4 separate regions of the Homo sapiens genome follow, and all the other regions are linked to region 4. The links come from fine-mapping of genetic effects on gene expression. A gene starts in region 4. Each other region holds a variant in brackets. All regions are shown on one strand. Distances are between the middles of the regions.

Region 1 (8,103 bases), 150 kb after region 4:
GGTGTCAAGGTTACAGAGGTAGACTTGGGAGTGACTGCCTGGTGTGGGTATTTGGAGCCTGGGGGAGGTGTGCAGAGCAGAATGCCTGTGTCAGGTGCACCACGAGGCCCCTAGACTCCTGTGTATCTGGGCTCCCACTCATTGCCCCCTCCTCTCCTGCCCTGTCTCCCCATTCTTGACATCTCCCTGTGCTGGTGCCATCCCTGCCCTCTGGCAGCTTCTCAGGCTGGGGAGCTCCCTACCTGCCTCATGATGTGAAAAGCTCAGGGAGTATTTTTTGCTGCATGGGGCTGGAGAGCAGGCAGACACCTCCTGTGCCCTCTAGGGAGGGGCCTTCCTGCCTTCAGACCATGCTCAGCCAGGGGAAGGGCCTCATCGGAGGATTTCCAATCTTTTGTACCTCCTTTAATGTCAAAACACTGCCACTCCCCTGCTCCATACCTCTCCTGACAGAAATTAGGTAGTTTTTTATGGCTTCCAGGACTCCTGACATGAATTCCACAGCTGGGGCATGGGGATGGGACGGGACTGGATGGGACAGAGCGGGAGGAGATGTGGTTCACAACCCACAGGGCATGAACACCTAGCGCGACAAAAAGTCTGTGAGTAGAGTCTACAGCGGCTGCCTGCAGGGTGGGGGACCAGGCTGAGCCCTGTGCTCTTGAAGCCTCCTTCTTGGCCCTCTGGGTCAGGGCCCAGCTGGTCACTGGGTGTCCCCTGCCTGAGTGGTTCTGCTGGTGAGTGCTCAGTGACCAGTCTGCCCTGTACTTCTTCAGGTGGCACTACTCCCATTTCTTTATTTTCATTCGTCAAAATAAACACTACAGGGGAGAAGACACCACTATTGAGTGGAAAGTGAACTGAAGATCGTTTTGAGAGCGCGGCAGGTTTACTCATTTTGGCCATAGGCAGGGTCTCTGAGCCAAGAGCATTATCAGCAGAGAGACAGGAGGAACTGGCTTCAGTGGGCAAACAGAAAGGAATGGCTTGCAACCATCCTCTTGATCATGTGTAAAGGAGTTGGCTTTTTTTTTTTTTTTTTTTTTTTTAGACAGAATTTCACTCTCGTCGCCCAGGCTGGACTGGAGTGCAATGGTGTGATCTCGGCTCACTGAAACCTCCACCTCCCGGGTTCAAGCGACTTTGCTGCCTCAGCCCCTTGAGTAGCTGGGATTACAGATGCCCGCCACCATGCCCAGCTAATTTATATATTTTTAGTAGAGATCGGGTTTCACCATGTTGGCCAGGCTGGTCTTGAACTCCTGACCTCAGGTGATCCACCTGCCTCAGCCTCCCAAAGTGCTGGGCTTACAGGCATAAGCCACTACACCTGGCCAGGAGTTGGCTTTTAATTTAAAGAGACTTGAAAGTTGGCCGGGTTTGGTGGCTGAGCCTGGTCTGAAGGCAGGAAAGCTCCTCCCTGGAGTTGTCGTGAGCGCCTGCTGCATGCTCAGCACTGGACTCAGGGGATTCAATGAAGGACCAGGCAGAGTCTGTGAGCCCCTGGAGATGCACAGTCATGGCACACAGACACAGTGTGACAGATGCTGAGCAGAGACTTCCGATCAGGGTGCTGTGAGTGAGTATCTGAAGCAGGGACTACTCACCTAGGCTGGGGGAGGGCTGAGGGAAGGCTTCTCTCCCTGAGACAGTCACATTTGAACCTAAGGATGTGTTTGGTTTAGAATCCATGCAAAGACATGGTTATCTATGCAAGATTAGATAATCCATGCAAGATTATAATTATACCCAGTTTCTAAGGCTCAGCTTCCTTTTCTCTAGGAACCCCACTGTATTTCAGTTCCCAGGGATCTGTGCATCCTCTGAGCTCCTGCAGTCCTGAGAATTTGACTCACATTCTCAAGCAACAGGCTCCCTGCCTCTGAAAGCACTGTCCAAGCTCCTTCCCATTGTCATCCCGTTCTATCCCTCATCCATCCTTCAGTCTGGGATGCAGGTTCTTCAGAGCTGAGCCCACAGAATTTTTCCCTGGCGGCCCCATGGATTCACTGCCAGGCCCACGCTGTAATGGCTCAGTGGTCTGACTTGCATATCTACTCCCCCCAGGCCTGTCCTGTGAGAGGACTGAGACCAAGCGAGAAACATACATGGAAGAAATAGATGGAATCTCCCATGCAGTAATTACACACAGGCACAGCAGAAATACCACAGACAAAAGAGAAACGACAAACTGGGGAAAACATCACAAAAATGATAAACTAAGGATTAACGTTCTCAATAAAGAATTTACAGGCCAGGTATGGTGGCTCACACCTGTAATCCCAGCACTTTGGAGAGGCCAAGGCAGGTGAATCACCTGAGATCAGGAGTTCAAGACCAGACTGGTCAACATGATGAAACCCCATCTCTGCTAAAAAATTTATATATATATAAATAAATTAGCCAGATGTGATGGCAGGTACCTGTAATCCCAGCTACTCGGGAGGCTGAGGCATGAGAATCACTTGAACCTGGGAGGCGGAGGTTGCAGTGAGCTGAGATCACACCACTGCACTCCAGCTTGGGTGACAGAGCAAGACTCTGTCTCCAAAAAAAAAAAAAAAGGCTAGGCATGGTGGCTCACACCTGTAATCCCAGCACTTTGGGAAGCTGAGGTGGGACGATTGAGCTCAGGAGTTTAGGACCAGCCTGGACAACACAGTGAGACCCCCGCTGTCTACAAAAAAAATGAAAACCTTAGCCCGGCATGGTGGAGCATTCCTGTAGTCCCAGCTACTTGGGAAGCTGAGGTGGGAGGATCACATGAGCTCGGGAGGCTGAGGCTGCAGTGAACCAAGATTGCGCCACTGTACTGTAGCCTGGGCGACAGAGTGAAACCCTGTCTCAAAAAAAAAAAGGCCGGGCGTGGTGGCTCATGCCTGTAATCCCAGCACTCTGGGAGGCCAAGGCAGGGGGATTATAAGGTCAGGAGTTCGAGACTAGCTTGGCCAATATGGTGAAACCCCCGTCTCTACTAAAAAATACAAAAATTAGGCACAGTGACACACGCCTGTAGTCCCAGCTACTTGGGAGGCTGAGGCAGGAGAATTGCTGGAACCCAGGAGGTGGAGGTTTCAGTGAGCCAAGATCACGCCACTGGACTCCAGCCTGGGCGACAGAGAGAGACTCCATCTCAAAAAAAAAAAATAAAAAAGCCAGAAAAAATTTATACAAATGAAGAAAGAACTTCAATACAAATGAAGAAAGAATTTCACCTGTGAATTCTCTATAAGACAATGAACTTCCAGTGGTTAATAATTATTTGGAAAAAACTGTTCAACCTACCAGTAAGCAGAAATACAAATGAAGACAACGTATTTTCACCTATCAGATTTGCAAAGGTGAGCGAGAGACAATATCCAGAGAAGGGCATGAATATGGGGAAACAGGCACCTTCATGTCGTGCTGATGGCTGGGTTAACTGGAACAGCATCTGTTCATTCTCAATCCACTAATTTCACTTCTGAGAATCTATCTTAGGAATGGACAGTGAGTGACATGGGAAATTTCTCATGAAATCAGGTTAAGCCACAGAAGTAGGGTATACAAATTATAGATTATATAACCATTTACATAGGTTATATGTTTATCATACATTTTTTATTTGGGTGATTTTTGGGGAATCTTTAGGTGATTTTGATCTTATATATATTTTTCATATTTTCTATAATCTTTAAAAATCAAGGGAAAAAAAAAAACCTCTGTGAAATGTGACATGATGGAACCAAATAAATCCAGAAATCAACTTTGAGAGTCAAATCTCTAGCAAAATCTGTCACTTCACAAGACTGTTGTAGGTATATGTTGATATGTGTGGCAAAATCCTCTCTAAGGTTGAGGACAGAGGTAACCAGGCCACATGGCCATGGCTGGGCTGATTTTGTGGGTGAGGTCACTGGCTGTTCACTGTAGGACCGGACACAGCCTGTCCCTTGGCAGGTCTCAGTTTCATAATCTGTACAATGGTATGGTGGGAGCGGGTGAGGCTGAATCAATCTCTGAGGGTCCTGGCAGATCTTGGGCTGAGGCGAAAACTCTGTTCTTGAAGAAGAGAACTTTGGCTGGCCTCAGTCACAGAGCGGAGGGTGACTGAGCATTGAGATTTGTAGGTTCCAGGCTCCAGCTCCTAATCTGCAGCAGGACCACTGCACGTGACCTTGTTACCTGTTCCTGACCACCACACTGCCCCAGCACGGCCCTGCTTCTTGGCCACCCTCTCTTTCTTGGTCAGCCCCTGGGCCCACTTGGTTGGGGCTGGCTTGACGGCTCAGGCTTTATTGATGTGTAGCCTGGAGGAGCAGGAACAGGGTAATGATTCTTTGGAGCGATTAGTGGAGGCAGGAACTCAAAGGCCATTGGAGAGCCCGACCTGCCCAGGGAGAGAGGATCTGTTCCCTCCTACGCTCTCCCTCAGGGACATTTTTGAGATGGTTTGGCTCTCATCATCAAGCTGTCCTGACTGTCCAAGGTGGCTGAGGCCACTTCCTGGTAT[A/G]AGACGGCTCCTCCCCTCCTGGCCACACTCACCTGTAGGCTGATGGGCGTCCACCTCCCACACCTTCAGCGCATCAGCTCCTGAGCTTTGATAAGGCCTCCTGTGCTCAGCCTACTTTCCCGGAACCTGATGGTTTACAGTCATGCTGCGCGGGTACTTTGGACACTTTTGTTCTCGGCATAAGCGAGTCTCAGGGTCCTCCCTCTCAGTGTGCCTCCTCAAGGGTGGGGCTAGAGGCCTCACTCAGCCTGGCCTACGAGCTGCCTGGCACTGGAGATGAGGTAGACAGGTTGATTTTCCTCCCAGCCTAGGCATAAGCAGAACTTCTGGCTTTCGGGAAAGACGCTGTGTGAGACCCGCCTACTCCGTCAGCCATCCCAGAACCTCTGCCTGCGCTGCTGCCTCTGAACTGTGACATTTTCAGTGTCACCCTCAATATCAGGGCCAGTCTTGGGTGGGGGCCAGAGGCAGCGGCCATGGGCATGGTGGGGCTGTTAGGGAAAGGTGTCCTCATGAAGCCCCCTTCCTGATATGGGCCTGTTTTTCCCTAGCAACCAACAAATGCACAGAAAGACAGCTTCTCTGAACAGTCCTGTGTCCTGCAAAGAGAAACCAGACAGAGTTGAGGAGCCCCCGGACTACAGGTGAGGACCCCTTTCCCAGTCATAGATACACACAGACTAGAGGGTGGGAAGCCCTCAGGAAGTGACCTGTTTGTAAGAGGACCTCAAGGCAGAGCCGGGGCCCCTTTGCAGGTCTGTGAGGTCAGGCACAGGCTGCCCCAGGCTTCTTCCTCCCGCCCCTCAAGACTGTCCCAGTGCACTGGGACCTAGCAGAGTCCATGCTTCTCGGGTTTCCAGCCTCCTCCCTGCTCACCTGTGCTCTGGGCCAACCTGGCCAAGGCAAAGGTTTACCTTTTTTTCTCAGTGCCATCCCCCTCTCCCAGTGTGGTAGCCTCAGCCAGGTCAGGTGAGTCTGTGCCAAGCTCCCCGCAGCAGAGCTCAGGCCACAGGAAGGAGGCGGCAGGGAGGGCAGTCCTGCTGGCATCATGGCCTGTGGCCAGGCCCCGGCGCTGTGAGTCTGACACCTTCACCTCACCCACACCCCAAACTGTCCCTATTCCAGCACTGCCTGCTCCCCTGCTTACCCCTTGGCCAGAGAAATGGGACAGGGTCTTTGACACCCAGGTGGGAAGCTCCTCAGCATCTCTGGGAGACCAGGCGCACCTCCAGGAGATGCTGCTCACCCGCACTGGGGAAGGTGGGCCCTTGGCGACCCCTCTCTACCTCCCGCAGTGCCCTCCCCCAGGGATGAGCTGTATAGTTTAGCTGTGTGCTCGCTGTACTTGTCATTTTGCTGTGTCCCCTAGAGAAGGGTCCTAGTCTCTGATCTCTGCCTCAAGCTTCTGGCTCAAGGCCAGGGCAGAATTGGCACTGAGGATGCATGGGCAGGACTGGGGTTCCTTGTTCCCGAAATGGAATGTCTCCTTTGCAGTCTGCACTGGCCAGAAGGCTTGAAGGGTGAAGAGATAAAGAAGTGTGGCCGAGAAGGGGTAAGTCTGGAGGCTGACTTCTCACTATTCACCCAGGAAGGGGTCCTGGGCTGCCAGAATTCAGTGACTTTTGGCTCCTTGGCCACCGGGCCTGTCATCAGGAAATCAGGAGACCTGAGTGTGTATCCCTTCCTGGGTGGGAGTAGTGTGTCCCCCTCTGCTAGTACAAGCTGCCTGTCAGGACCTAGCAGCACCAGGAGACAAGCTGTGCTTGGCACACAGCCCTCCATACTCACTGGCTGCTTACTAGCTGCCTCATGCTAAGTCCCCAGCATGGGCCGGGGGGCTGTGGCATTTCCTGTTGGCTGGAGCAGGGCCCCTTTGGCGGTCTCATCTCCCAGCGCTTCTCAGACGCAGCCTGTGTGTTTGCAGATAACACTGAATAAATACAACCAGCAATACCACAAGCTGTTTAAGGATGTTCCCTTGGAGGAAGTGGTTCTCAAAGGTGAGCTGTCTCCCGGTATAGCTGGTTAGGCACCCAGAGTGCCTGGGGCCAGGGGCCTCTGCTCTGGAGCCTCCAAAGCACGACTTAGAAATGGGAACTGGCTGTCCTTTAGATGTGGACCACTCCCCTAGAATGTGAGAAGACTGGGCTGGTGAGAAGACTGGGCTGGTTTGGACATAGCATTGCATTTTTGAAGGTTTTCTTGGGGAAACGTCAGGGCTTTGGAATCTTGTGTCCTGCTCTTACTGGTGACTTCTTACCTGCTCTGGCCTCTCACTGAGCAGGTGGGGGCATTTGCACAATCAAGGCCCTTGGGGCAGAGCAGAGCAGGGAAAGGTCAGGGATTCTGCCTGAGGTGGTGAGAATGCAGGCTTGGAGATCAGGGCAGGAACTTGCCTGGACCCTCTGGAGCAAGGGTGGAGAAGGAAGAAACATCCAGCAGGCTGGTGGAGTGGAGGAGCAGTCAGGAGAAGGACCCTTCGACGCTGGGGAATGGACTGTTTGGGGTTTGGGGCCTGCGGTGGGGAAGGGGGAGTCTGAGGAAGACAGGTCCTGAGGCTGGACTGTGGACTCCAGAACGTGAGGACCCAGGTCCTGGGGCTTCCTGGGCTGACCTTGCTTATGGCCATTTTCTCTCCTGTGACATCCTAGTGTGTTCCTGTGCCCTCCAGAGGGACTTCCTCCTCCAGGGCCGGCTCTACATCTCCCCCAACTGGCTCTGCTTCCATGCCAGCCTCTTTGGCAAGGATATCAAGGTAGTAATGAGTGGTGAGGGCTGCCATGACCCTGTGAGGGGAGCCAGCCTCCTGCCCCACGGGCATGCCTCAAAGTCATGCCTATCTCTCTGCGTGCTGGGCCCCGGGTGAAGCCCCTTGCTGGTTGGATGCGCAGCTTCGAGGCATCCCATCCAGTGTCCAGGAAAGTAGTCCTGCCCCTTCAAAAACAGGGGCCCAATCTGGACCCCACATCTGGCCTGAGCTGGCCTGAACAGTTCACAGCCAAATCATTCTGCCTCTGGGTATTTCAGAAATGCTTTGAGAATCAGAGTGGGATATCACATTTAGGCGGAGCCCTAGCTGTGGCCAAGAAGTAGCCTGGGGAGCTCCATTACTAGAGTATGAGATTTACCAGAGCCACCATCCTTGGCCTCCTGGATAACAGGGATCATACCTATGTGACAGCCAAGAGTGACACATCCTGCCAAGGCTGGGGCAGGGTGGCAGGGACAACTGGAAGGGGAGCCTGGATGAAAAGGTAGAAGGTTCAGAGACTTCCCCACATGGGGCCAGGCTTCCCCATGGTGGCCATGCTGGGCTCACAGCTGGGTCCCTAGGCAGGGAGCAAAGGGACCACGTCCTTGGGGGTTAGTCCTGAGAGAAGCATCCCTCTCCCTCTCAGGTGGTCATTCCTGTGGTGTCTGTGCAAATGATCAAAAAACACAAGATGGCACGGCTCCTTCCCAATGGACTGGCCATCACCACCAACACCAGCCAGAAGGTCAGTGCACTGGGCCCATGCTCCCTTGTCAGTCTCCCGCTCCCAGCCCTGACAGCCCACAGTCTGACTCGGGCACATTCCCAGGTCTTTATTTCACCCCACCCTGCAGCTCTC
Region 2 (8,099 bases), 23 kb before region 4:
CCTGTAATCCAAGCACTTTGGTAGGCCAAGGCAGGGGGATTGCTTGAGCCTAGGAGTTCAAGACCAGCCTGGCCAACATAGCAAAACCCTCATCTCTACAAAAAATACAAAAATCAGGAGGCTGAGGTTGGGGTACTGCTTGAGCCCAGGAGGCAGAGGTTGCTGTGAGCCAAGATGTGCCTCTGCACTCAACCCTGGGCAACAGAGTGAGACCCTGCCTCAAAAAAACCAAAGGCCGCTGTGGTATGAGCCCTGGGTTTATGTGTCAGAGTTTCTATCTTCCCTCACTACAAACTTAATTAAGAACTATTTCTGCTGTTAGGTTACTTGGATAGGCTGGATTTTTCTTCCTAAATCATAGATGAGGGTCTTCTGGGTCTGTGGGACCAAGGTTACCTTCTCCTTTATTGTTGATCAGTAAGATCCCAGTCTCCTGTCACATGCAAGGACTCTTCAGGAACCTTGTCCCGTCCCCAGAAACATCTGGAGACTTTTGGACATGGCAGCTCCTGGGTCCCACTGCTTGCCTCCCTCAGCTCACAGCTGGTATTACTAGCTCTGTGTGGACAGGGAGGCTGCAGAGGGACGGGGAGGAGAGCTGCAGGGAGGCCTCTTAGGGCCCTGGATTCCTTGGCCTCTGTCCTGAGGTGTGAGCTCAATGGTCAGGAGTCACAGAGACATACTTTGCTGCTGGGGAACAGAGGGAGCACATACCTGTTGTCCCATGTTGCCTGTGTATGAATAAGGCCCAGGAATCTCCTCAGCTTTGTGTCCTTACTGCCATTTGACCTTTTATAACAGATTCAGCCAGACACAATCATACAGGTGTGGCGAGAGGATATTCCAGTGAACTATATGAAGGAGCTGGAACTGGTCACCAAGGCCGGCTTCCGGGCCCTTCTCTCTGCCCCCTGGTACCTGAACCGTATATCCTATGGCCCTGACTGGAAGGATTTCTACATAGTGGAACCCCTGGCATTTGAAGGTGAAAGCAGAGAGCTCTCCTTGCTAACCAAAGGAGGCTGGGTTGGGGCACAGGATGGGAGGCAGGAAGGTCTGGGCCAGACATTTCCAGTTAGTAAATGAAACAACTTAGCTGGGGTGAGGGCCACATTGGGAAGGTGGTTGAGAGGGACCCTGGAGTTACCCCACCATCACCAGACTGTTGTTGCTTGTTTTCCCTCAGGTACCCCTGAGCAGAAGGCTCTGGTGATTGGTGGAGAGGCTTGTATGTGGGGAGAATATGTGGACAACACAAACCTGGTCCCCAGGCTCTGGTAAGGGTTTTCGGGGGGGAGGTGGAGGGTTGGGCCTGAGAGCAGGAGTTCTCCCTTAGAGACCCAATCCCATCTAGCCACCTCTGGACTAGTACCCTTCTTTCAGGCCTGAGAGAGAGCAGGCCGTGCAACGAGCCTTCTGAAGATTTGTGTGCAATATTCACTCTCCACATGACTTCCGTCTATATCCCTCCAGCTGCCCTTTGGTATGTGGGATAGGGATTGTTAACCTTACTTCCCAGAGAGATAATGAGGCCTGGAGAACATAGGTGAGTTGCTCAAGACCCAGCACAAGCATCCATGATTCCTGTAATAAGGCTTCCCTCTGCTGTTTTCACTGCAGCCTTACCAAGTATGGTTGGGTGTGCAAAGTTTACATTTTAAGGACCTCTGCTGCTGCCACTGTCATTGTGGTTAATGATGGCTTTAAGGTTTATTCTTATTCCCATATCTTTGAGAGAGGAAGAGAGTGGGATTGCTACCCACATTTTAATGAAGGTGGAGCTGAGCCGTAGAACTCTCTGGGAGCCATCCAACCTGGCTGTGGCTCATAACAAGGTATTGATCACTTCCTTTGGCCTGAGTGAGTCCAGGGTGCCTAGACAAGAGGTAGCAGCCTGTGGATGTCCAGCACCTTTGCAGGGAATACAGGGCCCAATCTGGCACATGCCCCTTTTCCTCCAGGCCCAGAGCAGGGGCTGTTGCCGAAAGGCTGTGGAGCAACAAGTTGACATCTGACCTGACATTTGCCTATGAACGTTTGTCACACTTCCGCTGTGAATTGCTGAGGTAAGCAAGCTGTGGGGCCTTCGCAAGGCGGAGCAGGCCAGATCCAGGGCTGGGGAACCCCTTAGAGAGAGGAAGACAATAATTAACAATAGCTAACACTTACAGAGGCTTATAGTCAGCCCTCATCCACGGATTCAACCAACTGCGATAAAAAGTATTCAGGAAAAAAAAAATACAACAAAAAATGGTACAAATAAAAAATACTGTATAACAACTATTTACATAGCATTTATATTGTATTAGGTATAAGTAATCTAAGATCATTTCAAGTATATGGGAAGTTGTACATTGGTTATATGCAAATACTATGTCATTTTTATATAAGGGACTTGAGCATCCTTGGATTTTGGTATCCACGGGGGTCCTGAAACAAATCCCCTGTGGATACTGAGGGACAACTGTATTTTGTGGCAAACACTGTGCTAAGTTTGTTACAAATATTGTCTCATTTAGTCTTCACCACAGCCCCATGAGACAGGTGCATTTTAGAGATAGACACTGAAGCACAGAGTTCAGGACCTTGCCCAAAGTCACTAAGAAGCAGGATTTGAACCAGGCTGACTTACAGGATGTCATGACACCTTTGCCTCTGTCAGGGATGTGCCTGTGTAAGATAGTCATTTCCCTGATTCCTTCGTTGGCTAGGTCTTGAGTACTTGGGGGACATAGCCTAGTGCAGAGCAGAGTCCTGGGCTGAGAGTCAAGCATGATGGTGTCTAAGCCTCAATTATGTCATTCACTGGGTAACTTCCAGCTGGTTCTCTAAGCATGTTGCTTACTTGGATGATAAGGGAAGCATGCCTAGAGGTCCCCTAAGGAGATTGGTCAGGTTATAGACTGAGACCCAAGGACAGGATTTCGCATCCATGTTCATGGACAGGACAGCACCTAAGTCCCCCAGTGCCACCATATTTACAGCATTTTAGAGTCAGGAACAGAGGGCTAAGTAGACCAAGAGCATTGGCTGCCTTTCAGACATCCATCTATATTCTAAAGGGATTGAGTTATTTGGGGTTAGGGTACAGAGATGGGCAGGATATAAATAGATGTCGCCAACGTTTCTGGATCTCCAAGACCTGTATCAGAATCACCTGAGGCACCTGTTCAGCTTGCAGATTCTTGCCAATACTTTGCCCCACCCCAGGTGAGAATCTCTGGAATTGAGATTCCCAGGTGCATTTGGTGTACAGTGACAGTTTGAGAGTCACCGAAATGGGGAAGGAGAGACTGTTGACTGGTGTGAAAAGTGTTGCTGGGGCCCCTTCTGAGGGGCTTATCTTGCCATTTCTTCATGTCCTCTTGCAGGCGAGGTGTCCAGGCCCAACCCCTCAATGTAGGCTTCTGTGAGCAGGAGTTTGAACAGACCTGAGCCCCAGGCACCGAGGAGGGTGCTGGCTGTAGGTGAATGGTAGTGGAGCCAGGCTTCCACTGCATCCTGGCCAGG[G/A]GACGGAGCCCCTTGCCTTCGTGCCCCTTGCCTGCGTGCCCCTGTGCTTGGAGAGAAAGGGGCCGGTGCTGGCGCTCGCATTCAATAAAGAGTAATGTGGCATTTTTCTATAATAAACATGGATTACCTGTGTTTAAAAAAAAAAGTGTGAATGGCGTTAGGGTAAGGGCACAGCCAGGCTGGAGTCAGTGTCTGCCCCTGAGGTCTTTTAAGTTGAGGGCTGGGAATGAAACCTATAGCCTTTGTGCTGTTCTGCCTTGCCTGTGAGCTATGTCACTCCCCTCCCACTCCTGACCATATTCCAGACACCTGCCCTAATCCTCAGCCTGCTCACTTCACTTCTGCATTATATCTCCAAGGCGTTGGTATATGGAAAAAGATGTAGGGGCTTGGAGGTGTTCTGGACAGTGGGGAGGGCTCCAGACCCAACCTGGTCACAGAAGAGCCTCTCCCCCATGCATACTCATCCACCTCCCTCCCCTAGAGCTATTCTCCTTTGGGTTTCTTGCTGCTTCAATTTTATACAACCATTATTTAAATATTATTAAACACATATTGTTCTCTAGGCACTGTGGTAGTGGGTTTTTTTGTTGTTTTTGTTTTTGAGACTGTCTCAAAAACTCTGTCGCCCAGGCTGACAGTGCAGTGGCACAATCTTGGCTCACTGCAGCCTCTGCCTCCTGGGTTCAAGCGATTCTCGTGCATCAGCCTCCTGAGTAACTGGAATTAATAGGCACGTGCCACCATGTCCATCTAATTCATATATATATATTTTTTTTTTCTGAGACGGAGTCTCACTGTCACACAGGCTGGAGTGCAGTGGCACGATCTCGACTCACTGCAAGCTCCACCTCCTGGGTTCACGCCATTCTCCTGCCTCAGCCTCCCCAGTAGCTGGGACTACAGGCGCCCGCCACCACGCCCGGCTAATTTTTTGTATTTTTAGTAGAGATGGGGTTTCTCCGTGTTAGCCAGGATGGTCTCGATCTCCTGACCTCGTGATCCGCCCGCCTTGGCCTCCCAAAGTGCTGGGATTACAGGCGTGAGCCACCGCGCCCGGCCGAATTCATCTATTTTTAGTAGAGATGGGGTTTCACTATATTGGCCAGGCTGGTCTTGAACTCATGACCTCAGATGTTCACTTGTCTTGGCCTCCCAAAGTGCTGGGATTAGAGGCGTGAGCCACCGCACGCGGGCCTGTGGTAAATTGTTGAATTTGAAGGACTCAGAGGCCCTGGTCAATTCCAAAATAACGTAGGCGACTTCCATCCCCCTCCTCCCAACCATTTTCAGCCCAAAGCATCTTCGCAGGGAATGGATGGCTGCGCGGAGGTGGGCGGTGGCTCTGGAGAGGGTCTTTGCAGGTGTGATTTTCTCTAGAAGGAAATGTCTCGTCGTGGACCCAGACTGCCCCCTCCTGGTTTCAGATGCAGAAGTGATACTGTAAGCCAGAGGCGGGGGCAGTAATGCATCGCAGCCATTTTAGGTGAGGATTTCCTTGGCGGTTATTTGTTAAGTTCTTTGGCTGGGCCCTGGGCTGGGGTAACAATGGACAGGTTCCAGGCATTTTTTTCAGAAAGCTTCCAGTGTAGTGGATACAGAAACTTCAGGAAGGCAGGGCTGAGAAGGATCTGAGTAAAACTCGGTCCTTCAACACCATCCTTCAGCCCCTGGGTCATGTTCCTTCGAGGTCCTGGTGGGAGGTAGACAAGCCTAGCCTTGTGCTGTTCCTGTAAGGACAGGGTGGGCATTTTCTACCAACAGAATTCTTGGAATTTTCACACAGCCCAGCCTAGCCAAGTCCAGGGCTATAGCCCAGATACACAAGTTAAGGTCCCAGCACTGGCACCCACCACAGGAGCCCCCTTACCTCTATTACCCAGAAGCTTGTAGGAGGGGTGGTCCGCAGACAAGGACCCTGCACAGGTGCGACCCTGCTTCCCTCCTGGTCATAACTTTCATGTTACTATTGCTTGGGATAATGTTAAGTAAAAATAGCAGACACTGAGTTTTAAGTCTCAAGTGGATGAAGGCAGAGATCGTGATACACTTGAGTTAAAGCAGTAGGGTTCTGTCATTTTCTATTCCTGTTGTAAACATTTTCTTTAATGTTATTATTTTTACCACTAAACTAACGTGGCCTGGTCACGACTTTCATTGGTAAAGTGTGCTGTTCCTCACCCTCCACCGTTGCTCCTTTGGTCCACTGATCATAAGAGCATTTACCTGAAGGTCGTCAGACCTCGAATGCCAACAGGTCAACTGCAGTGGCCTGCAGTTACCACCCAGTCTGTTCCAATGAACAGAATCGCTGTTGCCCCAACTCATCTCCCTTCACCTAGGCTGTAAATTGAAAGTCCCACCCCTGAGCGGAACACAGGCCATCTTGTGTGCTGTGCACCACCAGGGGGTGGGGAAGTTTCCAGACTGACTTCCTGGCTCCAGTCATCCTAGGAAAAGAGTTCTCCAGTCGCTCCCCACCCCCACCCCTTCCCATTCCAGGAGTCTATTAAGGAGGCAAAGCAGGCCTAACGGGTATCAAAGCAAAGGAGTGAATGGAGACTGGGAGAGTCTTCAACCTCTCCTCTCCTTGGTAGGAGCTGAGGCTGCATGCCAGGTACCTTCCCTTCGAGGAATCTAATAAAGCTAGGTCACTGGTGTTTTCAGGTGCTTCTCAAAGGATTGCCGTAGGGGTAGGATATCAGGATGTGGGAGCACAGGTGCCACCACAGCACTAGTGATGGAGAGTCATTGCCCCTAGACTTCTGGGACAGTGAGACTGTGAGGAAAGCTGAAATGATACTGGGAAAGGGTGAAAGAAAGGATGTAGGTGGAATTTATTTAGTATTAATGTAGGTACACATACCTTATGGCAACATTCCTAGCACTCTAAATTCTAGATTTGTATAGTTTCTGTCAATATCTTTTGTAAGCTTAATCAATACAGGGCATGACAAGTATGTGTCACATACTTTTTTTTCCACGAAGAAAAAAAATAAGTAGGAATTGGGTGCTTTGTTTATCAAAATTTGTATTTCCTTTATAAATAAACTTTGAAATAAAGGTTGAAAATTAGTATCTTTTCTAGCCGAGCCACCATTGTTTTTAAAAATCCTCTTTGAAGCAGGTGTGTGTGTGTGTGTGTGTGTGTGTGTGTGTGACGTTTTTCAACAAAATTTTTAAAAATCGAAATGTCAGGGTCAGGTGCAGTGGCTCATGCCTCTAATTCCAGCACTTTGGGAGGCCGATGTGGGAGGATTGCCTGAGCTCAGGAGTTAAAGACCACCCTGGGCAACATGGTGAGACCTGATTTCTACTAAAAATTAAAAAGATTAGCTAAGAATGGTGGTGTGTGGTTGTAGTCCCAGCTACTCAGGAGGCTGAGAAAGAAGGATCACTTCAGCCTGGAAGATTGAGGCTGCAATGAGTCATGATCACACCACTGAACTCCAGCCTCAGCAACAGGGTGAGACCATGTTTCAAAAAAAAGAAAAAAATTTAAATGTCCAGGAACCTTGCTTTTTTCACAGTAATTACTGTACTCTAACCACACCCATGTTTAGTCTAAACTATCCCAGTAAATACTCCTATTTTTTAGTGATTTCAAATGTTTCAAACAACAGAAAAGTCTAGAAAATAGTAAACAGTGTAACCACCCAGCTTTGTTGCATCTCAGTAGTCATATTTGCTTCAGATTTGTTTTTTTTAAACAAAAAAGATGAAACATTATTAATATCCCCCTTCCCAATGCTATTCCCTTCTCCAAAAACAACTGTTTTCCAGAATTTCTTTTTAATCTTATTTCCTCTGGAGAATCTGATACTTAGCTGTGATTTTTTTCATCACTTAATAAATTCTTTATGGCTCACTCTTTATAGCAAATTAGAAAGAGATGTTTTGGAAGCCACTCAAAAAAGGGAGTGTGTGTGGGAAAGGAGGAAGAGCAGCTGGCAGGCAGACACAGATGGGAAGGGGTGCCATGCTCGCTGGTGTGCTGCAGAGTGTGTGAGTGAGAGCGTGTGTCTGAGTGTCTGGATGATCTATTATGAAAGAGGATATTTGAACATAGGAACTCAACTGCTGGTGTTTATCTAGACTCACATGAGTCAGAAATCTGAATGAAGATAGATGTGGAGATCCAGCTAGGAGAACAAAAGTGCTTCGTCATTTTTATGTGCTTGCTGTGTCAGGCACTTTTGTTGTTTTTTTTTTTTTTTTCTTTTCTTTTTGAGATGGAGTTTTGCTCTTGTCACCCAGGCTGGAATACAGTGGTGCAATCTGGGCTCACTGCAACCTCCACCTCCCGAGTTCAAGCAATTCTCCTGCCTCAGCCTCCCAAGTAGCTGGGACTACAGGCATGTGCCACCACACCCTGCTAATTTTTGTATTTTTAGTAGAGACGGGGTTTTACCATGTTGGCCAGGCTGGTCTCAAACTCCTGACCTCAGGTGATCTGCCCACCTTGGCCTCCCAAAGTGCTGGGATTACAGGCTGAGCCACCAAGCCCGACCTGTCAGGCACTATTATAAGCACTTTACTGGATGTTAATGTATTTAATCCTCATCCCAACCAATGTGCTATCAATATTA
Region 3 (8,103 bases), 350 kb before region 4:
TTCTCCTGCCTCAGCCTCCCTAGTAGCTGGGGCTACAGGAGTGTGCCACCATGCCCGGCTAATTTTTTGTATTTTTAGTAAAGATGAGGTTTCACCATGTTAACGAGGCTGCTCTCAAACTCCTGATTTTAGGTGATCTGCCCACCTCGAAAGTCCTAGGATTACAGGCGTGAGCCACTACGCCTGGCTGCCCTCTTTCTTTCCTTCTTTTTTTTTTCTTTTTTCTTTTCCCTCCTTCCTTCCTTCCTTTTCTTTTTCTTTCTTTTCTTTTCTATTTTTGAGACAAAGTCTCTTGCTCTGTCACCCAGGCTGAAATGCAGTGGCACAATCATGGCTCATTGTAGCCTCGAATTCCTAGGCTCAAACGATCCTCCTACCTCAGACTCCTGAGTAGCTGGGACTACAGGCATGCGCCACCATGCTCAGCTAATTTTTTATTTTTTGTAGAGATGGGGTTTTGCCATATTGCCCAGGCTGGTCTCAAACTCCAAGGCTTAAGTGATCCTCCTGCCTTGACCTCCCAAAGTGTTGGGATTACAGGCGCGAACCACTGCACCTGATCAGATTATTTCTCTCACCATGTTGCTCTAATTTCTCTATGTTTTAATTGGCTGCCCCCAGGAATCTCTTTTTCTCCAACTAGTGAGCTCCGTCTGTTGAAAATTATAGAAACTAGGGCTAGGCGTAGTGGCTCACGCCTCTAATTCCAGCACTTTGGGAGCACAAGGTAGGAGGATCACTTGTGTCCAGGAGTTTGAGACCAGCATGGGCAATATATCCAGACCCCATCTCTACAAACTTAAAATACAAAAAAATTAGCCAGGCATGGTGGCACACTCCTGCATTCCTAGCTACTTGGGAGGCTAAGGCAGGAGGATCACTTGAGCCCAGGACGTCAAGACCACAGTGAGTTTTGATCATGCCACCAAACTCCAGCCTGGGTGACAGAGTGAGAACCTGTCTAAAAAAAAAAGAAAAGAAAATTAGGGAAGCTGTTCTAGTGGATCCCAGGCTTATATTCCAACTTTACCAAAAATTCCCTCTGTGAGTGACACAAGTTATTTCCTTTCTCAGCACTTCAGTTTTCCTCTGTGTAATATGTGACTATTGGACTCTGATATTCACCAACCTTTGTAGCTTAAGTGTTTTAGAAATCCAGGATTCTATGAGTACCTCTTCCCTCTTGTAACTCCTGTCCAGTGCAGTCAGTGTGCTCTGAATAAGATGCAGGGATAGAGTCTTTTAGCAAAGCAAAGAGGGAAAATAATGAGTTGAGGAAAATAATGACACAGGGAAAGTCAGAGAGAAGAGGCACTTGAGAAAGAAGTCAATCAGAGCAAGAATGCAAAAGAAAATAAGAGGAGAAAAAGGGGACACAGACCATATATCAACAAGGAAAAGTATTCTTTTCTCCCATACAGCTCTGTTTCTTCCCTACCAGCTCCAGATCCCTATTTTTAATTTTTATTTACTTTTATATGTTCTATTTATTATTTTATTTTTTTTTAATTTTTAGAGATACAGTCTTGCCCTGTTGCCCAGGCTGGAGTGCAGTGGCATGATCATGGCTCACTGCAGCCTCAACTTCTGGATGCTCAATTGATCCTCTTGCCTCAGCCTCTTGAGTAGTTGAGATCACAGGCATGCATTACCATGCCTGGCTAATTTTTTCATTTTTTATAGATACAGAATCTCGCTATATTGCCCAGGCTGGTCTTGAACTCCTAGGTTCAAGTGATCCTCTTGCCTCAGCTTTCCAAGGTGCTGGGATTATAGGTGTTAGCCACCATGCCCACCTACCAGACCCCCTATTTACATGCAGTCTCTTTCCCAAACAGAACATTATTCCCTTGCAGTCTTGCTGTTGTTGCCCACCCAGGCTGGAGGGCAGTGGTGTGATCTCAGCTCACTGCAACCTCCGCCTCCGGGGTTCAAGCGATTCTCCTGCCTCAGCCTCTTGTGTAGCTCCTGAGTAGTGTGCCACCATGCCCGGCTAATTTTTGTATTTTTAGTAGAGATGGGCTTTCACCATGTTGCCCAGGCTGGTCTCAAACTCCTGGCCTCAAGTGATCTGCTTGCCTCGGCCTCCCAAAGTGCTGGGATTATAGGTGTGAGCCACCACCCCTGGCCTCTTCTTACTTTTTCTTATGAGATAATTGTAGATTCACCTGCAGTCATAAGAAATAATAGACAGATCACATATACCCTTTCTACAGTTATCCCATGGTAACATCTTCCAAAACTATTGTGTAATATCACAGCCAGAATGTTAACATTGATACAGTCCACCAATCTGATTTAGACTTCCCCACTTTTACTTCATTTGTGTGTATTTAGTTCTGTGCAGTTTTGTCACGCGTGTAGGTTTTCCTATCTGTCACCATAGTCAACATACGAAGAGTTCCATCACCATAAGCCTCCCTGTCATTACCCTTTAATAAACATATACCTCCTTCCCACCACCTCCCCATTCCTAACCCCTGCAGCCACTAATCTATTCTCCATTTCTATAATTTTGTCCTTTCCAAGTTGTTATATCAAATAACATTATATAAAACATGTAGGCTGGGCATGGTGGCTCACACCTGTAATCCCAGCACTTTGGCAGGCTAAGGCAGGCAGATCATGAGGTCAGGAGTTCGAGACCAGCCTGGCCAATATGGTGAAACCCCGTCTCTACTAAAAATACAAATATGAAAATTAGCCTGGCATGGTGGCATGTTCCTGTAATCCCAGCTACTTGGAAGGCTGAAGCAGGAGAATTGCTTTAACTGGGACCAGGGAGGCAGAGGTTTCAGTGAGCCAAGGTTGCACCACTGCACTCCAGCCTGGGCTACAGAGCAAGACTCCTTCTCAAAAAAAAAAAAAAACAAAGGATTTTCTCCTGCAGCTGTGGCCTAGGCATGGCGACTCTCGGCTTTGTGACTCCGGAGGCCCCCTTTGAATCATCGAAGCCCCCCATCTTTGAGGGGCTTAGCCCCACTGTTTACAGCAATCCAGAGGGTTTCAAGGAAAAGTTCCTTCGCAAGACCCGCGAGAATCCGGTGGTACCCATAGGTTTCCTGTGCACGGCGGCCGTCCTCACCAACGGCCTCT[A/G]CTGCTTCCACCAGGGCAACAGCCAATGTTCACGGCTTATGATGCACACCCAGATCGCCGCCCAGGGCTTCACCATTGCAGCCATCTTGCTGGGTCTAGCTGCCACCGCTATGAAGTCTCCACCCTGAGCCCAGGGTCTTGAAAACTCTGCAGAAATCATTCCAAAACCCAGGAGCAACCACTGGCCCTACCATGGGACTTACTCTCTCCTCTCCTTTGAGAGGTCCCTGTGTCGTTGGGGGAGGAAGTGACCCTTCCTGTAACCATAACTGAAAGATTTTTTCAAAAATCCCAGATTCTGTTGTTTGAATGTTACATATTTCTATTTGTGCCACATCTTCCCTCCACTCCCCTGCTTAATAAACTCTAAAAATAAGAAAAAAGTAAAAAATTACACACATACTGTATGTAATCTTTTAGGATTGCTTTTATGAGCTAGGCATATTTGTATGGGAAGGGGGAATTTTTTTTTTCTTTTTTGAGATGGGCTGCACTTGTCGCCCAGGCTGGAGTGCAACTTCGGCCCTGTTGCCCAGGCCGAAGTGCAATGGCACAATGTCGGCTCACTGCAACCTCTGCCTCCCAGATTCAAGCAATTCTCCTGCCTCAGTCTCCCGAGTAGCTGGGATTACAGATACGCGCCATCACGCCCGGCTAATTTTTTGTATCTTTAGTAGAGACGGGGTTTCACCATGTTGGCCAGGATGATCTCAAACTCCTGACCTCGTGATTAGCCTGCCTTGGCCTCCCTAAGTGCTGGGATTACAGGCATGAGCCACCGCACCTGGCCAGGAAATTTTTTAAGATACGGAAAAGTACAGAGCATGATCTTGCAAACAACTATGTTCCTACCACAGAATCAACACTGACTGTTGTTAATATTTTGTTATATTTGCTTCATTTTTTTTTAAAAGGGAGACAAGGTCTCACTCTGTCACCCAGGCTGGAGTGCAGGTGCAGTGGCACTAGCATAGCTCACTGCAGCCTCGACATCCTGGGCTGACATGATTTTCTTGCCTTAGCCTCCCTAGTAGCTGGGACTAGAGGCACAGGCTACCATACATGGCTAATTGTTTTAAAGTTTTTGTAGAGATGGAGTCTTGCTCGGTGGCCCAGGCTGGTCTCAAATTCCTGAGCTCAAATGATCCTCCCACCTTAGCCAAAGCACTAGGGTTACAGGCATGAGCTACTGTGACTGGCTGTCTTTTTCATTATTATTATATAAAGGAAAGAATGTATTATAAAGTTGAAATCCCTTCTAATCCTCATCCTTACTTCTATTAGTCATAAGCAGCTACTAGTATGAATATGGTCTCCTTCCTTCCTTCCCTCTTTCTTTGTTTCTTTCTTTCTTTCTTTGTTTCTTTCTTTCTCTCTCTCTCTCTCTCCTTCCTTCCTTCCTTCTTTCCTTCCTTCCTTCCTTCCTTCCTTCCTTCCTTTCTTTCTTCCTTTTTCAGACAGAGTTTTGTTCTTGTCGCCCAGGCTGGAGTGCAATGGCACGATCTCAGCTCACTGCAGCCTCCACCTCCCAGGTTCAAGCTATTCTCCTGCCTCAGCCTCCCAAGTAGCTGGGATTACAGTCACTCACCACCATGCCCAGCTAATTTTTGTATTTTTAGTAGAGACGGGGTTTCACCATGTTGGCCAGGCTGGTCTCGAACTGCTGACCTCAGATGATCCACCCGCCTCGGCCTCCCAAAGTGCTGGGATTACAGGCAGGAGCCACTGCATCCTGCCTGTCTGTGGTATATTATGCTCTATACACTTTGATTTCTATTATTATTATTATTTTTGAGATGGAGTTTACTTTTATTGCCCAGGATGGAGTGCAATGGCATGATCTCGGCTCACTGCAACCTCCACCTCCTGAGTTCAAGCAATTCTCCTGCCTCAGCCTCCCAAGTAGATGGAATTACAGGCATGCGCCACCATGCCCGGCTAATTTTGCATTTTTAGTACACATAGGGTTTCTCCATGTTGGTCAGGCTGGTCTCAAACTCCCAACCTCAGGTGATCCACCCGCCTCAGCCTCCCAAAGTGCTGGGATTACAGGTGTGAGCCACCGCACCTGGCCTGATTTCTATTATTTCACATAATTTTTACAACAAATCTGTAAAACGAGGTTTCCATTTACAGATCAGGAAACTAAGAGCCTTGAAATGATTTTCTCAGTGGTAGGTGGTAGTGGTAGGTTAGAACTGGCAAACAAGCTTATGGTTTGATGTTTACCCACTAGCACTACCTCCTTCAAAGCTGATCACAAATCATGATAGTGAAAGAAGCTTTGAAACTACGGATCTCTAACTCCCTTTTATACGACTGGAAGGGACCTTAATTAAGACCCTTCTATTTACAGAGGAGGAAACTGAAGCCCAGAGATACCAAGAGTTGGCCCAGGTCACACCTTGGTGATTGTGGAAGGACTAAGAGAACAAGCCTGACTCTGACTCCCCGCCCTTTCTCCATCCCACCTCTTGCTGCCCCAGCCAGGAGCCTAGATCTCAGAATGCAGTCAGAAAAATCCCTCACTGAGAAATATTAAGACTAGAATGCTAAGAAGAAATGTTAACAGTTCCATAGAAAATGACAAAAAGCATGCATATATAATTTATGAAAAAAGAGAACAAAGTTTTTTTTGGAAAGTTTGACTTAACCATTGCCAAGTAAGAACTGCAAATTAAAGGAAAAACCATTTGAACTCAGTTGACAATGACTTTTTTAAAGCTAATACTCATTGTTTTGAGGTGTGGGCTTTGTTGCATGACTGAAAGACACTCTTGTAGCTGGTAGAAGTAAAACTATTACAGTCTTTCAAGAAAGCAGTTGAGTATTGTGTATTTAAGACCTTAAAAATATTTAAGGCTTTGATCTAACAATCTGAATTCTAGGGAAGTTTTCAAAGATAATCAGGCATGTGGCCAAAGAATGTTACATGCAACATTATTTATAATATTGAAAAATTGATCATCTTATTATGTCCCAAGTACAATGGTTTAATAAATCAGTGTAAATTTATATGATGTGACGTTATGCAGCTGTTAAAATCATAGCTTGGAATATTATTTGATAACCTGGGAAAAGGCTTATGATATATTAGGTGAAAAGGAGATTTCAAAACTAAATAATCTGATTTTAAAATTATTAGTAGTAGTGCACTGAGAAATGGGTTGGAAGGGAATCAGTTAGAGGCTATCAATCATTTCTGGATAGTCAGTCTTGGAACATGCCCTGCTCTTAATAAGGTGTGCACTTTTATTTGTTGCTCAAATAAGCAAATGAATAAATTGTGGGATGATGAATAATTTAAATTTTCTTCTCCATAGGTTTTGGAATTTCCCAAATTTTATGAGAATATTTTTATTATCATAAAAATTAACCAGGCAGGGTGCGGTGGCTCATGCCTGTAATCCTAGCACTTTGCGAGGCTGAGGTGGGTGGATTGCCTAAACTCAGGAGTTTGAGACCAGCCTGGGCCACACAGTCAAACCCCGTCTCTACTAAAATACAAAAAAAAATTAGCCGGGCGTGGCAGTGTACGCCTGTAGTCCCAGCTACTCGGGAGGCTGAGGCAGGAGAATTTCTTGAACCTGTGAGGCAGAGGTTGCAGTGAGCCAAGATTGCGTCACTGCACTCCAGCCTGGGCAACAGAGCAAGACTCCGTCTCAAAAAAAAAAAAAAAAATAGGCTGGGCACAGTGGCTCACGCCTGTAATCCCAGCACTTTGGGAGGCTGAGGCAGGTGGATCACCTGAGGTTGAGAGTTCAAGACCAGCCTGATCAACATGAAGAAACCCTATCTATTTAAAAAATACAAAATTAGCCAGGCGTGGTGGTGCATGCCTGTAATCCTAGCTACTCAGGAGGCTGAGGCATGAGAATCGCTTGAACCCAGGAGGCGGAGGTTGCAGTGAGCTGAGATCGCACCATTGTACTCCAGCCTGGGCAACAAGAGTCAAACTCCATCTCAAAAAAAAAAAAATTATGAAAACTTACAGCATGTTGACACTAACTGAACAAGATAGAAAAAAAACAACTAGTATTTTTTGTTCAATATCCTTCATTTTTACCACTTTCCAAAAGTTTAGAATACTGAAACTCAATGTTGCCTTATTTCTAAAGCTGCCAAACCTTTTGTCATTTCTGGACTTCAGTTCCCTCCTTTGTAAATAGAAGGAATTTAATTAAGGTCTCTTCTAGCCTTAAAAAGAGTAGTTATAAATTCATTCCTCCTCAGTGATCCTGGTTGATAGAATTCTTCCTTTATCAAAAGCCTCTGCTAAAGAGCACCCTCAAAGTTAAAGTCATTGTAAAAAACTCTCCCCGGTTTTGCAGAGACTTTTTTTGTTTTGCTGCATGACTTTCAGACAAGCACTAGACTTGTGTCATTTCCATATGAACAGACACATGTTTTCCGGAGGGCAGGCTGTAGTTAGGGCTGTGTCTCTGCTACTGTGTCTCTGCATAACCCAACGGGCTTGCATGAGAATAGGACTTTTCATCTCATTTCCATTGGTTTCATACATTAAGCAAGTCAATTCACATGTGCTACAGGTCACAGTGGGAACTCTCCATGTAAGGCTATAAGTGGTTCAGCTCAACCCATTTCTTATTTCTGAAAACAACTTGAAGCATGCAGCCTATGGCTGGAAGGCAATTGAGTTATATTTATAGAAGGGCAGCTTGATCTCTTTGCATGATATCCTGTCTTTAGAAAGTAAAAAATAAGTTGCTATGTGTCATCATCGCGTATAGGCAACTAGATGCAGAAATTTAAAAAGAACAGATCTCTTTACTGAGACCCAAATACATCCCTGACATCGCCCCTCCAAAGTGCACCACCTCCAGTGAGTCTCCCTGTCATGCCCAGCCAGTGGACAGCCAACCCCCACCATTCCTCCAGCACTCCCGTGGCCAATCATGGGGGTGCTGTGCTGGCAGCCTGTGACCTGACATCTCTACCAGTCTTCCAGTCCCTCGTATGTCAGGGAATGTGTCCTCTGCTGGCTGT
Region 4 (8,103 bases):
ATCTGTCACCAACATAACTACTCTAAAAGAATGGCTAAAGGAAGTTCTTAAAATGTAAAGGAAATGATAAAATAAGGAATCTTGGACTGTCAGAAAGGGAGAAAAAACAACTGAAAGAAGGAAAATGTGGGTAAATGCGATAGACTTTAATGCTTCTGAAGTTTTTTATAAATGCTGATTGTATATCATTGTCTAAAGTGGTTCTGAAATATATAGAGGAAATACTTAAGGTAATTATAAATGAGGGAGGATAAAGGGACTTAATAGTAGGTAAGGTTTCTACACTTCACTCAAACTGGCAAAATGTCAATACCGGTACACTGTGATAAGCTATGTATGTATAGAATAAGAAACACTTTATCAACAAGAGCACAGGAAAAATAAAACAGAAATGAACCAGGTGTAGTGGCTCATGCCTGTAATAATAGCTACTTGGGAGGCTAAAGTGGAAGGATTGCTTGAGGCCAGGAGTTTGAGACCATTCTGGGCAACATAGCAAGACCCCATCTCTAAAAAAACAAAACAAAACAAAACAAAAAAACAAGAAGAAAGATAAAGAAAAGAGAAATGAAGAACATAGGCAACAAAAAGAAAACAAAAAATTAAGTGACAGACTTAAGCCCTAACATACCAATAATTACATTAAATGTAAATGTAAATTACAGGCTCACACCTGTAATACCAATAATTACATTAAATGTAAATGGTCTAAATATGTCAACTAAGACAAAGATTAGTAGAGTGGACTTTAAAAAAATGACCCAATTATATGCTGTCTAAAATAAACTCACTTAAATACAGCTATATACGTAGCTTGAAAGTAAAAGGATAGAAAAAGGTATATTTTGCAAAGATTAATCAAAAGAAAACATAAATGGCTATATTAATATCAAAGTAGCTCTCCACACAAAAAGCTTACCAAGAACAGAGTGACATTGCATAATAATAAAAGTATCAATTCATCAAGGCATCACAGTTTTTAATGTTTATGCCCCAAATGACAGAGCTACAGAATATGTGAAGCAAAAACTAATGGAACTGAAAGGAGAAATAGACAAATCCACAATTACAATTGAAGTCTTCAACACCTTTCTCTCAACAATTGATAAAACAACTAGACAAAATCAGCAAGCATATAGGGCCAGGCACTGTGGCTCTCACTTGTAATCCCAGCACTTTGGGAGGCTGAGGTGGGCAGATCACTTGAGGTCAGGAGGTCAAGACCAGCCTGGCCAACATGGTGAAACCGCTTCTCTACTAAAAATACAAGGTTGGGCACAGTGGCTCACACCTTTAATCCCAGCACTTTGGGAGGCCAAGGGGAGCGGATCACTTGAGGTCAGGAGTTTGAGACCAGCCTGGCCAACATGGTGAGACCCCATCTCTACTAAAAATACAAAAAAAATAGCTGAGTGTGGTGGCAGGCGCCTGTAGTCCCAGGCTTGGGACTGAGGGTAGCAAAACAAACCTCAACAAATGCAAAAGAATTGAGGCCAGGCTCAGTGGCTCACACCTGTAATCCCAGCACTTTGGGAGGCTGAGGCAGGCGGATCACCTGAGGTCAGGAGTTGGAGACCAGACTGGACTACATGGTGAAACCCCATCTCTACTAAAAGTACAAAAATTAGCCGGGCATGGTGGCGGGTGCCTGCAATCCCAGCTACTCAGGAGGCTGAGGCAGGAGAATTGCTTGAACCCGGGAAGCAGAGGTTGCAGTGAGCCAAGATCACGCCACTGCACTCCAGCCTGGGTGACAAAAGCGAGACTCCATCTCAAAAAAAAAAAAATTGAAATTATACACAGTGTGTTCTGACCACAATGGACTCAAACTAGAAATCAATAACAGAAAAATAATAGGCAAACCTCCAAACACTTAGAAACTAAACAATACATTTATAAATAATATATGGATCAAAGAGGAAGCCTCAAGGAAATTTTTTACTGTATTTTTCTTTTTCTGCAGAGAACTTTGTTCTGATTTTTGAATTGTTTTACTACTTTTGGGGTGAAAATTTTAAAAAATACATAGGACTGGGCCAGGCATGGTGGCTCACACCTGTAATCCCAGCACTTTGGGAGGCCTAGGCAAGCAGATCACGAGCTCGGGAGATCGAGACCATCCTGGCTAACATGGTGAAACGCCATCTCTACTAAAAATACAAAAAAAATTAGCTGGGCGTAGTGGCGGGCAACCGTAGTCCCAGCTACTCGGGAGGCTGAGGCAGGAGAATGGCGTGAACCCGGGAAGCGGAGCTTGCAGTGAGCTGAGATCGGGCCAGTGCACTCCAACCTGGGCGACAGAGCAAGACTCCATCTCAAAAAAAAAAAAAAAAAAAAAACTACATAGGACTGAATGAAAATGAAATTCCAGTAACCCATTTCGTGGTCAACTTATTACAAGGAGTAACTTTCTGTTAAAGGAGAAAAATAATTTATTTTATTTATTTATTCATTTAGTAAAAATGGGGTTTTGCCATATTGGCCAGGCTGGTCTCAAACTCCTGATCTCAAGCAATCCACCCACCTCGGCCTCCTGAAGTGCTGGGATTACTGGTGTGAGCCACCGCATCCCGCCAGAAAAATGATTTTTGAAAATCATAATTTGCTGCTGCATTTTTTTTTTTTTTTTGAGATGGAATCTCACTCTGTCACCCAGGCTGGAGTGCAGTGACACGATCTTGGCTCATTGCAACCTCCACCTCGTGGGTTCAAACGATTCTCCTGCTTCAGCCTCCAGAGTAGGAGGAGCCCGCCACCATGCCTGGCTAATTTTTGTATTTTTAGTAGAGACGGGATATTGTCATGTTGGCCAGGCTGGTCTTGAACTCCTGACCTCAAGTGATCTGCCCGCCTTGGCCTCCCAAAGTGCTGGGATTACAGGTGTGAGTCACCATGCTCAGCCAGAAAAATAAATCATTTAAAAATCATGATTTGCTTCTGAATTGAATATTGTTTTAAGAACTTTTTGATGATTCCAGTTGCTACTGCTGGTCTCCAGCAGTTTCTTAGAATAGTCAATGGACACAAGTTATGTTAAAATCTCTATTAGGCCAGGTGCAGTGGCACACTCCTGTAATCCCAGCACTCTGGGGCACCGAGGTGGGTGGATCACTTGAGCTCAGGAGTGTTCTAGACAAGCCTGGGCAGAATGGTGAAACCACCATCTCTACAAAAAAAAAAAAAGAAAAAAAATTATCCAGGCATGGTAGCGTGCACCTGTCATCCCAGCTACTTGGGAGGCTTAGGTGGGAGGATCGCTTGAACCCAGGAGGTTGAGGCTGCAGTGATCTTAGATCGCACCACTGCACTACAGCCTGGGTGACAGAATGATAACCTATCAAAAAAAAAAAAAGGAAATCTCTATTAAAATAATTAGCAATTTTACTGAAAGAGGCATGAAAAATATATTATGGAATAAATATATAATTTATGAAGTATGTGTCTTTGTCCAAACATTGTATTACTACTTTGTGCAAACATCACTGATCCATCAAGAGAATACCTAGACATGTGCAGGAGTAATAAAATTCCATCAGCTCTGATATTTTGCCAACTTTCAGTCATATAGAAAGCGTAGCTGTACATATGTCTTTCATTTTCGTAATTCTGAACCTGTATTTGTGAAAATAAGAGGGGAACATATTTAACAAATTGTAATTTGATTTGTATCTTTTAAATGTTTAGATGCACAGTATGTCGATTTCCATTTCTTATTTTGCGCTGGGCCCAACAAATGTTGGGGTGGGCCTGGCCCTAACATCCTCGACCCTCAGAACCTCAGCTTCCTTTTCCGGAAAAAGAGAACACTCCTGAGTTCACAGAACTGGGATGAACTGGGCACCTGGTGCATAATGGGTTCTGAGTAAATACGGCTAAGTTCCCTCACTCTCCTAAGGAGGAATCCGTGTTCAAGGAGTGTTTAAGGGGTTTTTATTTTATTCTTCCTTTCTTTTTAAGGCTGCAAGGGAGACGAATGTGTCTGAGGCTCAGGGGTAAGAAAGTGGTTAAAGACACCGAAGACAGAGATGTGTGATGGGGCGGGGTGGGATTGGCTCCGAGGGACTGGCTCGATAGTGGGAATAGAGAAGAGGAATCCCCATCCACCCCCGCAGGAAACGCACCAGCGTTTGGAGGTGTGTGTGCCTGCGTGTGCCTGCGTTTGCCTGTGTGTGCCTGTGTGTGCGGTGGGGATTAGCCCCGACTCCGGCAGACACCATCACGCATGACGAAGCTGCTTCCCCTCACGCGGCCCAAGGCGCACACGCGCGATCCACGGCCACGCCCGCACACACTCGACACACACAGGGCATTCGAGGGTCCGGTTGCCATGGCGAGCAGGAGCGCGTGAGCCCAGCCGCCCCCCCCGCCCCCGGCGAGCCCAGTCAACTCCCACTCTGATTGGCGGCTGCTTCCTCATTATGCAAATCATTTGCGTAGACTCGGCGGCCAGCTGCCTGACGTCACCAAGCACGGGGGCTGGGGCTCGGGGCTCGGCTCTGGGAGAGCTCGGGCGGGAGCCCAGAGAGAGCCGCACGGGGACCTCAAGCCAGACCCCAGCGTTCAGCCGCCACCTCGGCCCGGGCCCGCCCCGCCCCGGCCCCGCCCCTTTCCTGCCCGCCCCACCCCCTCTACGCCCCTCCACCCGGACCCCGCCCCCTGGGCAGCCCCCCGCCCTCTCCGCCCGGGCTCCGCCCCCTCCCCCTGGCCCTCGCCACCGGTCCAGGGAGGGGACGGCGGGACAGGCGGGACCAGTGGGACCGGCGGGAGGGCTGACAGGGCGGGGACATGGCCGCGGCGCCGGGAGGGTCAGCGCAGCCCGCTGGCCCCGGCCCGCGCCTGGGTTTCAGCACCGCGGACAGCGGCGTCGGCATGAGCGGGCTAAACCCCGGTCCCGCCGTACCCATGAAGGACCACGACGCCATCAAGCTCTTCGTGGGGCAGATCCCGCGGGGCTTGGACGAGCAGGACCTCAAGCCGCTGTTCGAGGAGTTCGGCCGCATCTACGAGCTGACGGTGCTGAAGGACCGGCTCACCGGCCTCCACAAAGGTGCGCGGGGTCAGCCCAGCCCAGCCCAGCCCCAATCCGATTAGAGTGTGGCCCGACCCCAGCCCAGCCCCAGCCCTAGCCCTGCCGAGAGCCAGTCCAACACCAGTCCAATATCAGCCCCACCTCAGCCCAGCCCCCTTCCCAGATCACAGAATTTTCTCTCTGACATCCTCCCTCTGATTATCACTGTGGTCCCCTAACATGTTCTCCACTCTAACCTCCAAATTCCTGGCCTCCACCTCTCACATCCCAGCAGTCCCTGCCTTTCAATTGGACCTTTCCACCACCTCTCCCATCAGACCTAAAATTCTGGAATTTGAAAACTTATTCCACCTTCTAGATCTCGAATACCCTCAATTTCCCAAACCCTGAGCCCAAACACTCCTGAATCCTCCATCTGGTGGCACCTCACTCAGGCCTAACCACCCACATGCATATCTTGGACTTGCACCCCTCCTCTGGCCTCCTAGTCCGGCCATCCCCCTCAAGAGCCTTCTTTTGACTCTCAGACTGCCAACCTAAAACACCGCAGACCCAAACCCTCCCCTTCTTCAGAACCCAGACCTGTCTAACACAAAATCCAATTCAATTCCCAGGAGGCTCTCAGTTCCAGACACCCCCTCATGTTCAACAACAGCCCCAATCTCTCCTGCCCTTCGCCAGAATCCCAATGCACTCTACCTCTTTTGATTTCAGTTCAGAACCCTGACCTCAGCTGGGAACTCCTGCCACCCTGTGTCCCTTTCTTCTTGGATTTCTCTCAGCTAAATCCACACTTCTTTCCTTCTCTAATCCCCTCACTCCTGTGCCTCTTCTTTGCTCCTCCCCAGTCCTCTTTATGGCCTCTTTCTTTCCCTCCCCTCACAGGCTGGTCCCAGTCCAGGCCCATTCTCAGGGTGAGTCAGGCTGAAGAGACAGAAGGAGATCTTCTCCCTGCCCTTTCTAGAGAGATACACGGTCCTGTTCGGCCACACCCCTTTCTTCCTGTAGAGAGAGGGAGGAGGCTTGTTTACATGCAGAAAAGTCTGTCCAGGCAGGGCTGGAGTAAGAGAGCCAGAGTCACATGTCATACATGGGCAGGAGAAGGGGAGATGATTTGAGAAGGAACACTCTTATCTCCTCCCCCACCACCACCACCATGCTGTGCTTTCAAGTTTTTGCTGGGAAAGAGTCACCAACTATCCTCCATGATCTTCCTAAGAGAGGAGTGGTGGGCCTTGGGTAACAGCTAAAGGTACATTCCTAAGGACTGAGAGCTGGAATCAGACTGCCACCTCTTCAACTTGGAGGCCTCGTAGGGTTCCTTGGCACACTAATGTAGGCACTTCGAGAAAATGCCAATAGAAGAGCTAGGACCATCTGGCTAGGAGTACAGCTTCCACCCTTTGGGCTGGGATTGTGTTAATGGGTGTATGAAAGGACAATACCTCACCATCTAGAGTCCTTCTAATGCACTCCCACTACCTGCCTGTCTGTCCATCCCTCTGTAGTAACTCATTTTCTTATTTTTAGACATTGATTTCAGGATGTACATACAAAGCTAATCTTTGTAGGCCATCCGTACAATAAGGGAAGTGTATAGAATACCCTTAAATCTCACTCTTCTCACTATCAGTCTCTGAACTGTTCCCTCATCCTCTCTCTTTTCATTTAGCTCTAATTCTGCCTGTTATTTTCATTCATCTGTCTCTCAAACCATGCTTCTCTGTCTTTTCTTCCCTTCATTCTTCCACCCTCTATCCCGGCTAGTCCACATGGGGCTTCTTTAGGCAGCAACTGGGCCCCTGAGCCTTTCAGACAGGCAACCTGCCCGGTTTGGACGTCAGGTGATATGGGTTGGTAGCAAAACACAGAGCAGGGATGTAAGTGGAATCAGGTGTTTGGTGATTTATTTCCAAACTAAATCACAACTCTCCAAGGCAAGTGTTGCCTTCCAAGATGATTGTAGAGGGTCTCCAAGTCAACATCTTCCTCATCCTCTCCCCAGAAACAGTGACTCATTTTCCTTTTGATGTCTGGGTACCGAGGCAGGCAGCCACAGTGCTTTGAAAACAACCCCAGCTTGGGAGTTAAGACATTCCAAATCCTGCCCTGCCACTGACCCACTCTCTGGGCTTCAGTTTCCCTGTTGATGTGATAAGAGTTTTGCTCAGTTCTCTAAGTTCCCTTTAACTCAATGAATGTCCGGCAATAAACCCATCTTAATGGGGCAGCCCTGTAGAAGAGGCCAGAAAAAAATGTTCCCATTTGCCTTTCTAATCTGCTGAGGTCTAAGTGGAAATCTGCCCCAAGTTCCTAATGGCTCACCATATCCACTTTCTCCTCCTTCAGTCCTTCTCCCTCCTACACTCAGAATGCTCCTTTTGAAAACAGATCTTATCATCTCACAGATCTGCTTAAAACCCTTTAAAGTGGCTCTCTATTGCTCTTAGGAAAAAGTTCAAAATCCAACTGAGGCCCACAAGGCTACATATGACTTGATTCCTGCATATCTCACTAGCCACTCTGCCCCCATACACCAGCCTCCAGCCACACTAACCTATCCATTTCCCCAACACACCAAATTCTTGATTCAGTCTTCATATATGCTTTTCCCTCTGTCTGAAATAATCACTGTCCTTTTCATCACCTGATTGTTAAGGACTCAGTGTTCTTGTTCTCGAGGACTCAGTGCCTTCTTTGAGACATTACTCAACCCTTTGGACTTGTTTAGGGGTCCCTCATGATTTGTCTAATCCCCATGAGGGCAGGGAATGTGTGTCTTGTTGCCACTCTATCTCCAAGGTCATCAAAATGCCCCACCATAATAAGTAAGTGTTCAATAAATATTTTCTGAATGAATGAGTGCTCAGTGGCTGTTGGAAAGGAGGAGAGTGCTGCTTCAGTGCTTCCTAGCAGGCTACAGGTCCTGAGGCTGAACAAACAGAGGGCTAAACTTGACCCTTTGGCTCAACCTAGACCTCTTCGCTGACCCATATATGCTGGCCCTTTTAGAGGAGCCAGATTTGAGGCACAATAACTCTTTAAGAGGCCCTACCTCAAAGCCCTAGGAGGGT

What was found.
Region 1: its variant is fine-mapped to the expression of CELF6 in whole blood (TOPMed, PIP 0.99).
Region 2: its variant is fine-mapped to the expression of CELF6 in whole blood (TOPMed, PIP above 0.99).
Region 3: its variant is fine-mapped to the expression of CELF6 in whole blood (TOPMed, PIP above 0.99).

The regions. Positions count from the first base shown.
Region 1 is chr15:72,166,880-72,174,982 of GRCh38, reverse strand. It overlaps GRAMD2A (GRAM domain containing 2A), which reads left to right. Exons shown (of 12, transcript NM_001012642.3): 2 at 5,044-5,136; 3 at 5,987-6,044; 4 at 6,417-6,492; 5 at 7,144-7,247; 6 at 7,891-7,989. LOC124903522 (a long non-coding RNA gene) reads right to left here. Exons shown (of 3, transcript XR_007064706.1): 3 at 3,582-5,091. Among named protein-coding and RNA genes, the nearest start is that of GRAMD2A, 27 kb to the left of the region's middle. RefSeq lists an enhancer at 6,281-6,575. The variant A/G (reference allele first, on the strand shown) is at 4,493.
Region 2 is chr15:72,339,413-72,347,511 of GRCh38, reverse strand. HEXA (hexosaminidase subunit alpha) reads left to right here. Exons shown (of 14, transcript NM_000520.6): 11 at 802-985; 12 at 1,187-1,277; 13 at 1,962-2,066; 14 at 3,372-6,588. The coding sequence ends at 3,435. Among named protein-coding and RNA genes, the nearest start is that of CELF6, 23 kb to the right of the region's middle. RefSeq lists an enhancer at 4,655-5,154. The variant G/A (reference allele first, on the strand shown) is at 3,511.
Region 3 is chr15:72,671,175-72,679,277 of GRCh38, reverse strand. It overlaps HIGD2B (HIG1 hypoxia inducible domain family member 2B), which reads left to right. Exons shown (of 3, transcript NM_001350932.3): 3 at 2,891-3,480. The coding sequence starts at 2,904. The coding sequence ends at 3,224. Among named protein-coding and RNA genes, the nearest start is that of HIGD2B, 11 kb to the left of the region's middle. RefSeq lists an enhancer at 7,543-8,103. The variant A/G (reference allele first, on the strand shown) is at 3,097.
Region 4 is chr15:72,316,557-72,324,659 of GRCh38, reverse strand. It overlaps CELF6 (CUGBP Elav-like family member 6), which reads left to right and starts at 4,503. Exons shown (of 13, transcript NM_052840.5): 1 at 4,503-5,047. The coding sequence starts at 4,786. RefSeq lists silencers at 4,367-4,416, 4,477-4,816.